Homo sapiens: one gene and its partner. The protein of the gene in region 1 purifies or fractionates together with the protein of each later gene. This does not show direct contact. Each region holds a gene or a part of one and is shown on either strand. Other genes may lie near its edges.

Region 1 (7,764 bases):
CTTAATTATTGCATTATATTGCCTCCAAGACAAGATAGTAAGGGAATTCCAGGCAAACAGGACAGTATATGCAAAGGCACAGAGGAAGGAAAGAGCACAACATCTTTGGGGAATTGTGAATGGTTGACATTGGATGAGGCATAAATAAAAAGACTAGCAGGGGATGAGGCAGGCAGGCGCCAGGTCATGGAAGGCCTTGGGTGTCATGTAAAAAACTGTGATCTTTATTGATGGGTAATGAGAAATTATTGAAGGATTAGGCAGGAAAGTGACCTGAGTAGATTTTCTTTTCTATTTGAGACATATTTCTCTGGTGTAAGAGTGGAAGGGAGGTGAATGCGGGATGTCAAAGGCAGGGAGACAAGTCAACAGACCATAGCACTGCTCTAGATGAGAAGTATGATTCTGAACTTAAAGTGGAAGACAATCAAGTGAGTATGGGCAAGAAGGATTTTTAGGAAGTAAAACTAAAAATTGGGGCCAGGCGTAGTGGCTCATGCCTGTAATCCCAGCACTTCAGGAGGCCAAGGAGGGCAGATAGCTTGAGCCCAGAAGTTCAAGACCAGACTGGACAACATGATGAAATCCTGTCTCTACAAAAAAAAAAAAAAAAAAAAAAAATTAGCCAGGTGTGGTGGCATGTGCCTATAGTCCCAGCTATGATGTGATCATAGTCCCATGATCACATCACTGCATTCCAGCCTGGGTGACAGAGCGAGACCCTAAAAAAAAAAAAAAAACAAAGAAAAAAGAAAATTGGATATGAGAAAAAAGAGTTAAGGATGGTTCCTAGATTTCTAGTCCCAGTTACTTGGTATACGGATATACATTAATACAGGAGAACAAGGAAGAGGTTTGGAAGAAAAGCTAATGCATTTAAGGGGAATGTTATTAAATATGCCTTTTGTTTTATTCTTTTTTTTTTTTTAAATGGTGTCTCACTTTGTCACCCAGGTTGCAGTGCAGTGGTACCATCCTGGCTCACTGCAACCTCCAGCTCCCAGGTTCAAGCAATCCTCCCAGCTCAGCCTCCCAAGTAGCTGTGACTACAGGCGCTCCCCACCATACCCAGCTAACTTTTGTATTTTTTGTAGAGATGGGGTTTTGCCAAGCTGCCCAGGCTGATCTCGGACTCCTGGGCTCAGGTGATCCATCTGCCTTGGCCTCCCAATGTGCTAGGATTACAGGCATGAGCCACTGAGTCCAGCCTGTTGTTTTATTCTTATTCCATAATTTTCACATCATTTATTTTCATCATCACACATAGTGATTTTCAACTAGGGCACGAGCAGGAACCCAGAGGGGAGAGCGGTAGGAGGAGGTATATTAGAATATGGGTGTTTGGGCCAGGTGCCGTGGCTCACGCCTGTAATCCCAGCACTTTGGGAGGCCGAGGTGGGCAGATCATGAGGTCAGGAGTTCGAGACCAGCCTGGCCAACATAGTGAAACCCCATCTCTACTAAAAATACAAAAAATTAGCCAGGCGTGGTGGCGGGCACCTGTAATCCCCACCACTCGGGAGGCTGAGGCAGGAGACTCGCATGAACCAGGGAGGCAGAGGTTGCAGGGAGGCAGAGGTTGCAGTGAGCCAAGATCCCACCATTGCCCTCCAGCCGGGGCGACAGTGCAAAACTCCGTCTCAAAAAAAAAGAAAAGAAAAGAAAAGAAAAGAATATGGGTGTTTGTAGGTGTAGGTGAGTGTATATGTAGTTCAACTATTCCTTCCCACCTTTTTCCTGGAGAGAGTCTGACATGATCCCTCATTGAGAATCATTGCTATGTACAATTATCCATGAATATTCTGACAAGGTAGAGACAGTTGAAAACCTTGAATGTGTTCTATGCAGTCACAGAACTGCAAGACTAGGACAGACTTTAAAGATCATCTAGAGTTTGGTAGGGCTCAATCAAGTGCTGTCTGGAAAAATGAGAAGGCATTTTCAGTTATCAGAATGGGAGGTGCCATTGGCATTAAGTGCCTGAGAGCCAGGGATGCTAAGTATCCTGTAAACCACCAGCAGCTCCAAATAATGAAGAATTATCTTGCCCCATACAACAATAGCACCCCTTGAAGAAACACTGATATAGTTCAATCTCCACGTTTTATAGATGAGGAAACTGAGGTCTTAGAGAAGGGACTGACTTGCTACTAAAGATCACCCAGTTACCAGTAAGGCCTGTTTATACTCTCCTTCACTGCTTTCCAATATGGGTCTCCTAAGCCTGTGGGACATCCAGAAAAGGAGTCCAATTGAGTATATGTCAAGTACTCAGAATGCTGCCTTGCTCTTACAATCCTTTGCACATTTTCTCTAGCCCCAGATCCTCCTCCCACCTTCTGAAACCTAGGCTGGAGGTGCAGGTTTGGCAGTTTTAGCACAGAAAGCCTAAAGAATGGATAATGTCATCCTGGCCAAATACATAAAATGTGACAGAACTCTGAGGAGAACAAACATTAGGAACCTAGTGGAGGAAGAAGAATTGGTAAAAGAAAATGAAAAAGTCAGAAATTTAAGAGGCAAGGTTCAGGATGACAAAGGGGACTAAGTACAAGTTGTTTTGTTTTGTTTTAGTAAAATAATTACTTTAGCATTTATTGGGTAACTATGTTGATTGATACATTGTATCTACTCTTTGCATCTTGCTTGCAGACATCAGACTGACTTCAATGTAGCAAGAGCTCATTAAAACAGCCTCTTTCCAGCTGGGCACAGTGGCTCATGCCTGTAATCTCAGCACTTTGGGAGACAAGAGGCGGGTGGATCATTTTGAGGTCAGGAGTTCAAGACCAGCCTGGCCAACATGGTGAAACCCCATCTCTACTAAAAACAAAAAATAGCCAGGCATCTGTAATCCCAGCTACTTGGGAGGCTGAGGCAGGAGGATCATATGAAGCCGGGAGGTGGAGGTTGCAGTGAGTCAAGATCGTGCCACTGTACTGCAGTCTGGGTGACAGAGTGAGACCCTGTCTGAAAAACAAAAACAACAACAACGACAACAAAAAAACAGCCTCTTTCCCAGTCTCAGCTGAAGCTGTAAAGCTGTTTGATACAGTTCTGGGCAGTGTGACAGATGTGAGAGAACAGCATCAAAGCCCACCCCTTAATAAGTTTGTACAGGGTAGGTATATAGAATCATATTTGGTACTTTAACATTCCTAACAGACTACATTTTGCAAAAGAATAACAACGAAGGGGACTTGTCCTACGAGCTAGCACACATGGTGTAAACCGGAGTAATTACAAGGGTGTAGCAGGGGTGTGCAGAAATTTATAAATGTAAGTCTGTACAGCTATGGGCGAAACAAAGGAGGAGTGGTCAGGTACACTTTGAGGAGGAGGCATAACAAGAAATAATTCATAGGTCTTTCCACAACAGAACCTCTAGCACCACCTTGCTATCAGTCCTTTGCACATTTCCTCTAGCCCCAGATCCCCTCTCACCTTCAGAGATTCAATCGTGGCCTGCTTGTAAACCTTTCCTCCAGAATCTTTCTTCTGAGGGCTATTCTGGATTCTAGGCGTTCGAATGACGAATTTATCCATTGTTAGGGGACTCCGACTACCTTGACGTGCTTGCAGCGTGTTCTGGTCAAGAAAGAGGGCAGATTCTAAAACCCCACTAAAGACTGCCATGATATTTTTTCCCCAAAGTAACACAATTGAGTTCTCTGGAAGAATTCATGAATTATGGGGCCTCGAGTGGAATTGACAGGAAGTAAGATTTTCTCTTTAAAAGAAAGATCTTCCGAAGAATTGAAACTGTAATCAATCATCAGTCTACGTCCTGAGTTAGGAGGTTCCTAGCTTCCAGAAGTGCACGCTCTAGCGAGGATTCCAACATTGGGGGAATTGGCCCAATATTGGAATCCCCGCTAGAGCGTGCACCTAAGCCCTCTTCCAAATAAGATTGGGCTGTGAAAGGGTTAGGATTACATTAGGCTCAGTGACGCCCTCTTAACAACCACCTCACCACAGCCATAATCCCAAGGGTTGCCCTGGTAATCAGCAACCGACAACCACCTCCAGAACTCAGCAGAGGGTCTCACAATACGCAGCATCCCCTAGAACAAACTGCTCGGTGGTCAGAGGACCCTACCCACGGCTGTAATCTCTGGATCCCCGAACAAGGAGAAACCCCATCCTCCTCGTTCCCAGCACTCAGGAGCCCGGGTAGGGGCACCCAACAACGGTCTGACGTGAGACCCACCAGGAAAAGCAGCCCTGGTAGCTGCTGTTGGCGCCCTCCAGACTGCAACCTCGTAGGCTCCCAAGCCCAGTCGTCTGTGTTGAAACTAAACAGACGCTTCCTCCCAGGGCGGTAGTTCCTCTGAAGAAACTCCGCCGGCCCTCGCGCCTCTGGGCCACAGCGAACCACATTCCCCAGAATGCACTGCGAAGAAATGCGGGCGGAAGGCGCGCTGAGGGCGGCTGTAGTTTTCCGAGACCAACTTTCCCGACAGCACCGTGCGCCTCCCGCCTACGGAGAACTACATGCCCCAGCCTGCCCCGCGAAGGGAAGAAGTCAGGAGGCCCCGCTTCGCGCTAACGCTTGCGATGGTTGAATTCCCCTCCTCACGCCAGCCTAGGAGAAGAAGTTCGTAGTCCCAGAGGTGAGGCAGGAGGCGGCAGTTTCTGGCGGGTGAGGGCGGAGCTGAAGTGACAGCGGAGGCGGAAGCAACGGTCGGTGGGGCGGAGAAGGGGGCTGGCCCCAGGAGGAGGAGGAAACCCTTCCGAGAAAACAGCAACAAGCTGAGCTGCTGTGACAGAGGGGAACAAGATGGCGGCGCCGAAGGGGAGCCTCTGGGTGAGGACCCAACTGGGGCTCCCGCCGCTGCTGCTGCTGACCATGGCCTTGGCCGGAGGTTCGGGGACCGCTTCGGCTGAAGCATTTGACTCGGTCTTGGGTGATACGGCGTCTTGCCACCGGGCCTGTCAGTTGACCTACCCCTTGCACACCTACCCTAAGGTAGGGCCCGTCCGGAGCGGGCTGCGACCCTTCCCTTGCAGCCCATTTCTCGGCTCCCCACACGTATGTCGGCTCTGGCAACCTGGCTGTTAAATCGGCCCTTCAATCGCTGTCTCCCATCTGTGTAGCTCCTGTTTTCCTCCCTAATCCTGCCTGCACCCCATTTCTGCTGTCATTACCGGAAGTTTGTCCTGCACTACCCTGTGATAGGCTGGGGGACACAAAGATGAGAAAGACGCGATCCCTTTCCTCTGGGAGCTTGCCGGGCTGCAGGGGAGTCGAGCACTCGGAGGAGGATAGGGGAGGATATGGATGATTAATGCGGGGTCCTCACCTAAGGGAGCGTAAGGGGGGATTGTAGAAAGGGAGGCGCAGATACGCGAGTCCACAAATGATTGATTGATAACCCTTGTTTACTAAGCGCCTCTCGGGGCCAGGAGCGCAGTCTTCGGGGAGTCAGACAAGTAGACGATTCCACTGTGGTATAAAAAGCGTCACGAAGGCAGCTCAGGGAGTAGCGAGACGCTCAGGAATGCTGTCTGCCTATGTTGAGTTACTGTGTCCAAGACGCTGCCAAGAGGGACTGGGTTAGAGAAGAGGCAATTAGGTGTCTGCCTACCAGAAACTGACCACTCAGTGCAGAAAACGGGGAATTCGTGGAGTGGGTGAAGAAATGAGACTGTGGACAGGAGGGGGTTCGCAGCTTACAGAGAGGAATGGCCCTCCTCTCTATGCTTCCCCCCTTTCTTTTAATTACATACCTAACCCTCTTCACGTTGGTTTTTCAGCCTAAGAACTCTGTTTACTCAACATTCTAAATTGCTTGATGATTCCCACCACACCTTTCCCATGTATGATTTGAGTATATGCCCTCCCCCACGTTGTTTTATGAGAGCTTTTGTTGATGTTGCTGGTGGTTTCCTCTTCGTTTTTCCTTCATCTCCTCTATGCTATTTGCTTAACCATTGTGGCTGGACCTCCTTGCTCTCTAAAACTGGAGTGGCTACGGAGACAGTTCCAGTGAAGCTTAGGATGTTCCATATTGGCGAGTATTTTCAGGTCTTTGAAATGAAAAGTTCTAAGTGCCGGCACTTCTCAGATTTTGTTACGGCTGGATTTTAAACTGCATGGAGATTATCAATTTTCAAAAAAAAGTGTGGGAGAAGGGACTGTACTAAATTTTTCCAGAGATTTATGTAACAATCGAGAAAGAAGTGAGAAGTTTTAACTTCAGACTTAAATCAATGAATACTGCTTCTAACCACGTTATTTTTCTCCACCTCTTGTAAACTTCTCATCATTAAGAGGATTGTATGAAGAAGCTCATTAATATTGATTTGGCCTGGAATTGGGTTGAGACTTACTTTCTATTGTTCTAGGGTTTGTTTCCTTTTTTGGGATTTTCTCGGCAATTTTGTGGTATAAACCAGAATGTTGGGAAAATAATCAAATAATTTGAAAGGATACCTTCCTGGAAGTTGTAGGTACTTTAATAATGTCCACTATTTTCTAACAATTGGTGTTATATCTATAAACTATTTTTACTTATTTATTAAAGCTTTTCTCACAAAGAACTCCAAATCATCTGGCTCCCTATAGGTCCTGGACTTGAAATTTATATAGACTCCACTGTTAGCCAGAGTGATGGGAGATTTATCATACCATTATCCCTAATTCTCACAACAACCCTGTAAAGTAGGGTTTTAAAATTAAGGAAATTGAGGCTCTGAAAGGTTAAGTGACTTGCCTAAGGTCACATACCCAAGAAATAGTGGAGCAGGAATTCAGCTTAAAACTGGCTACACTATGCTGCCTCCTATTAATAAACTTGCATTAAACATATTCGGCCGGGTGCGATGGCTCACGCTTGTAATCCCAGCACTTTGGGAGGCCGAGGTGGGTGGATCACCTCAGCTCAGGAGATTGAGACCAGCCTGGACAACATGGCAAGACCCCGTCTCTGGAAAAAAGAAAAACAAAAAAACTAGCCAGGCATGGAGACGAGCACCTGTAGTCCCAGCTACTCGGTGGGAGGCTTGCTTGAGCCTGGGAGGCGCAGGTCGCAGTGAGCCGAAATGTCGCCAGTGCACGCCAGTCTGAGAATGAGACCGTGTCTCAAAAAAATAAAAATAAAAAAATGCCGGGCGCGGTGGCTCACTCCTGTAATCCCAGCACTTTGGGAAGCTGAGGCGGGTGGATCACCTCAGGTCAGGAGTTCAAGACCAGCCTGGCCAACATGGTGAAACCCTGTCTCTACTAAAAATACAAAAAAATTTAGCCAGTCGTGGTGGCGGGCGCCTGTAATCCCAGCTACTCAGGAGGCTGAGGCAGGAGAAGCGCCTGAACCCGGGAGACAGAGGTTGCAGTGAGCCCGCGCCACCGCACTCCAGCCTGGGCGACAAGAGGGAAACTCTGCATCAAAAAAAAAAAAAAGAAACATATTTAATTATGTCACTGATTTCTATTGGCTCTCCTCTGTGCTTTGTGCTCCAGGAAAAAGCACTGTGTATTGTAAGAAATTAGATGAATTTTCAAACTCACATAGCGTTTGAAAAACGAGATAGAAATCTCGTTTTAGGCTGGGCGCGGTGGCTCACGCCTGTAATTCCAGCAGTTTGGGAGGCCGAGGCGAGTGGATCCTGGGTGGTCAGGAGTTCAAGATCAGCCTGACCAACATGGTGAAACCCCATCTCTACTAAAAATACAAAAATTAGCCGAACATGGCGCACGCTTGTGATCCCAGCTACTCAGGAGGCTGAGTCAGGAGAACCGCTGGAACCCGGGCGGTGGAGGTT
Region 2 (5,156 bases), on another chromosome or scaffold:
CATACTTGCTCAGAAATGGCTTCCACATTCCAAACAGGATTAGACTGTTTGCTCTTACAACACTAACCCTTCTGTTTTTTGAGCTTCATCAATTGTCTACTTGTTTCCCACTGGACGTTAGTAGTGTCTTCTCAACATGGGTCTATGAAAGGAAATTGAGTAGTCAAGGCTGATTCTATATTTCATCTTTGTGGCTACAAACTCCAAAATAGAAATGGCTTAGGATAACACAATCTTTACAATGCCACACCACTCCCTAATTAAATTATTTATACTCACTGAAAATGGAAGCATAAATAAATATTCTCACTTTTCTTTAAAGACTTTAAATGGGAAAGCACTTTGGGGATTTTAAATGCAAAGATGGATGACGCACTGAGAGACAGTGATAGTTCAACACTACTGTAATGGTTTCTGGGGAGGAAACTGGCCTCTTTCAGGGAAAAATGTTCTCAAATATGGGAAACAAAAGGATTATAGATTACACATTACACAAAAAATTAAAAATACAGTGGCTTTATTTCCATTGTTTATAGTCCCCAGTATCCCATCTGATAAGAACCTTCAATTCTATAAACAAAAATATTTCAAGAAAGTATGTTACACAATAGTACATATAAGTAATAGTTTGGCAGAATTTTAAACTCTAGTAGTTCATACCCCCAAAAAACAAATTTTAAAATTCAAAAATAACAGTTTTATTTAACATATGTTACACCTTAACATTTAAAATATCATGCTCTAGTTAAATATTTCATCAACAACACTGTATACAAATAAAATATTACATAAAATATATTTAAGAAAATGTTTTGGTCTTTGATCTGAACAATAAATAAAAACACAGGCACTTCTACATAGACAGGGAAGCAGTTACTACTCAATAATAATCTTGTATAAGCAGCATGTGAAAATATGGCAATAATAAATTCTGGAATTTTAAATTGACAAACCATCTATGCAAAAGTCTGTAACTTCAACCTTTTCACTCAAGTTCAAAATACATATGCCTTCCTGGTCCATATTGAAAATTCACTAACACGATATGGTTGTTAGCGGCAATTCAATCTTCAGTTGGCCATTAAGGAATCACACTGATTTTCAAATACTAAAATTACACTATGATACCACCAGGAAACCAAATACAAGAAAAATTAAACCCTCTTTCTCCTTATTATGACCATAACATCACAACAAGATAAATTAGATGAGTGTCACACCATGATTCTCATTTTGCAAAATTAATTAACACACAAAAATACTGTTGGGGTGGCAGGAAATTTCCACAATTGAAAAACTGAATTCCACAACTGACAACTGAAATTTCAGTTTTCTAGACAATTTAAAATTTACCCAAATCCCATAAAAATAAACATAATTCCATTTCACGAAAACCACTGGATAATGTTTAACAAAGTCTTTGTAGCCAATAGGTTTATAAATACCTGAATTACAAATAAATCAGTCATTATTATGGGAAGTAGGAATATTATAGAAGAGGGCAAACAAAATCACTTAAAATGGCCAAATTCCAGAAACAGGATTTCAGATAAGAGGGTACAAGTTTTTTAAAAATGACCACTAGCCGGTAAGATCAGAACCAATCATCCTGCCATATCATCCATAAAAAAAAATTACCATCTTCCGCTTTCCCTCTTCACGTGAGTACCAAATTGAAGGGTTTAGAGGCCCTCAAATGGGTATCACTCATAAAGGCAATTTTCATGGTTTAATATAGAAATTACTCTAATGTGAGAACACAACATGGGAACTATTCAAAATACACCTTTCTATGCAAAATTGAGTTTGTATCTATTTTAGCATTTTAAATGAGCACTCTGCAACTGAGACCAAATATCAATCATCTCTTGAGGTTTTCTACTATGTACTAACATCAGATCTACATAGGAGCAGATGTTATTTTTGTTTTTCTCCTCGATATCAAATGTCCTGAAGCCTTTGTGTTTCTCTGGAACGAGGCCGAGTTTCTGAAGGCACATTCCAGTATAAACGTCATCAATGGGGTAGAGATGGACCTGGTCAGTGATATGGTACAGCCTCAGGGCCAGGTGGCCGGAGTAGAGGAACCCCCCTCCCCCTGCATAGGGTGGGTAGAGGCCAGAGTAAACAACTTCTGGGATGTAGTACTTCAGCTTCTTATCCCGATGAGGTCCAGCATTGTGGATCACATCACCTATGAAGAGATCTTTGGCTTTGGTCTTGGATAAACTATTCAAGTAATTCAGGATGTGATGGGTGTTCACAAAAACATCGTCATCGCCCTTGAAAACAAACTCAGTGTCTGGGCAGGAAGTACTTACCCACCTGAGAAACAGCACTTCCTTCAGAGACAAGTTGAAGAAAGTGTCTCTGTAGTTCCACATAAGAATGTCTTGGTGCTTCTCACTCTCAAATTTCAGCATATCTGAAAGGTCGGGGTGGTTGTCCTCTGGGGGTGTCTGGCCCAGCAGGAAGACTCGCACCACCGTTTGGTTCCCTGCGTTGCTTTCTTGGCCCCAGGATTCCCGGATTGCTTGCCTTCTGGCAAAATGTGGAGTGAGGGACTTAATCGCCAGCAACAAGAAAGGTTTCTTTGCACACTTATCCGGCTGATCTATAAGCAGTGAATAATTGCGGCATCTCAAATACAGCAGAAAGTCTTTAAATCTGTCCGGCAAGTTGTTAAAACCCGTAACCACCGACGTGACCCTCAGGTCAGGTTCGCAGTAGTTCAGATGGCTTATATTGGAGAGCCTGCCCGCCTCCCCCGTCTGGTTGGTCAGCATGCTCAGGATGGGGTTGTACTGCCGGTTCAGCTTCTCTTGCTCTCGGTTCCAGTATGCCTCGGGAGGGGTAGATATCTTCCAGAACTTCTCTTTGGGTATTATTACTTCCCCTTTTCCATTTTTTTCTTGGCTACTGCTTTTGGAGACTTCCATAATAAAATAAATGAAGACATTTGCCATCATCAGGATACCCAACAACTTTATTCTTCGACGTCCAACACTCATTTCTCATATCTGGAATAAAGGGGTGGAGTATTGTATCAATTACTTATCAATTTGCATTTGCACATACAATTTATTTTACCTGTCTCCCCAGGAATAGTGGTTTACAGCAAAGACTCTACACTTGCACTGCCTAGGTTCAAATCTTGGCCCTTCCTTTCTAGCTTTGTGATCATGGGCAAGTGGGATAGTCCCTGTCTCAACTTCTCCATATATAAAATGGGAATCAAGCCCACTTCAAAGGATGGTTGTGAGTATATGATGTTATATGGAAAGCTTTTAAAATAGCGCGTGGCTCACAGCAAGCACTATGTAAGTGACTGTTTGAGACATGCTGAAGCTAGAAATACCTATTACTAAATAACCTCAGGAGAGTTCAACTTCCTTGCTTACAATGGCACATACAGTGCTTGGCAAACCGATTTGCCTAAATTATAACAAATACATTTTTATACTGTGTTTAGTATACACATACATACACAAAACTCTATTTACATGTGTGACGCATTGTGTGCAGTTCCATGTCATTCACTCTCAAGTTCTCTTCTATTTCATTTGAAAAACTTTGAGATTTTAAAATGTAGAAACAGGGACTGGTTACGTTGCTCAGGCTGGGCTCAAACTCCCAACCTAAGGTGATCCTCCCACCTCAGCCTCCCAAAGTGCTGGGATTATAGGCATGTCTGACCCTATCTCTCTCTCTTTTTTTTAATGTTAGTCCCAACCCTGAGTTATTTTCCAACCTACCATTTTACAGATAAGGAAACCAAAGCAGAGAGATTAAGACACTTGCCCAAGGTTGCAGGGCTAGGAAGCAGGAGACAGGAACCACAGAGCATCTCAGACAGAGAAAATGAAAGCAGACTCAGGACAGCTTTATCCCAATAGCCAAGAACTGGCAACAGCCCAATATCAACAGAACAGATGATCAAACTGTGGCATCTGCATACAATGGTATATCCCCTCGGCAATAGAAAGGGAAACTATTGTGGATGAAACATTACAACATTACATTGTGAATGAAGGCCAGACCCAAATTTTCATTTATATTAACTTCAAGAACAGGCAAAATGAATTTAGGTTCTAGAAATCTGAAAGTGATGGAGGTGGTGGGCTTAGAGAAGGATAGGAAGGAACTTCCTGGGGTACAGAAATGTACCATGTAGGTCTTGATCCTGATGAAGGCTCCACGGATGTATGCATATGTCAAACCTGAAGTGTATATTTAAGATCTCTATTGTTTGTAGCAAAAAGGGAAATACAAATGATATTTTAGTGAAATATCAAAAGATTTCAGGCTGTGGGCAATGGAAGAATAAAGAATGAGTAATGAGATGGTTTGCTGGGGATATCCAAGGTTCTAACACTATTGACATGGATGACCTATACAAGAATGAACATTTAAACCAAGGTGACATTAAAAGATAGCCCAAAAAAGTGGGATGGCAATGTTCTATAAAGAGCTGAAGATTTTCTTATCAGGTTAATTCAACTGGGAATTTATCCTTAGGTACTATTACTCATTCCCATTTTATACCTGAGGAGGTACACATTTAAAGAAGGGCAGACTGGAATACCAGCCAAGGCAAACAGATTCCAAGTCTGTACCATGCCAAAAGGTAGCTACACTTCTCCAATCCCTAAAAGAAAGCTTTGCAACTATTTTAATCTAGTATTTGCTTTTTGAAAGGAGAGGATTTTTAAGTTCACTGGATTCTAACAAACGGTAAAGTAGAAAAATATTTGTCATGCTGAGAATGCTGTAAAACTATTACATATTAGAGAGCCCAGATGAGATCAACAGGAATTCACAAGCTATTGTGTGTCTGTAAAGATCTGCCTAGTAGACCTTTATCTGGTTGCTTGTATTTACTACTGCTGAAACCACCTTTGCAAAGATTATGGACAGTAAGAAATCTAGCATGGCTGACTCCATCTTGCGTCTACCCTCACAGGCTAGCTGTCTCCACTCATTCCTGGGCATAGGCCAAGCTAACCACGGGAGAAATTTAGTTTACAGTTTAACTTCGAAGCAAAGATGGTAACAGTCCCTCCATAAAACTGATCCCTTCCTTGTTCAGGGGGCTGAGGCTAATGAAAGGTCACAAGATTAGGATTGAGAGGGGCCTGAATTCTGCTAAAATGTAA

The links.
Region 2: the proteins of TMEM59 (region 1) and B3GNT2 purify together in Homo sapiens (affinity purification with mass spectrometry; 2 studies listed by BioGRID and IntAct, with this or other methods). This does not show direct contact.

What each region holds. Positions count from the first base shown.
Region 1 is NC_000001.11:54,050,205-54,057,968, reverse strand, and holds the start of TMEM59 (transmembrane protein 59 isoform 2 precursor), read left to right. Parts: upstream 1-4,764; 5' UTR 4,765-4,780; coding exon 4,781-4,969; intron 4,970-7,764. Other genes in the region: TCEANC2 (transcription elongation factor A N-terminal and central domain-containing protein 2), read right to left, coding at 3,445-3,546.
Region 2 is NC_000002.12:62,220,076-62,225,231, reverse strand, and holds the end of B3GNT2 (N-acetyllactosaminide beta-1,3-N-acetylglucosaminyltransferase 2), read right to left. Parts: intron 3,021-5,156; 5' UTR 3,012-3,020; coding exon 1,818-3,011; 3' UTR 501-1,817; downstream 1-500. UniProt on the Homo sapiens protein: Beta-1,3-N-acetylglucosaminyltransferase involved in the synthesis of poly-N-acetyllactosamine. Catalyzes the initiation and elongation of poly-N-acetyllactosamine chains. Shows a marked preference for Gal(beta1-4)Glc(NAc)-based acceptors.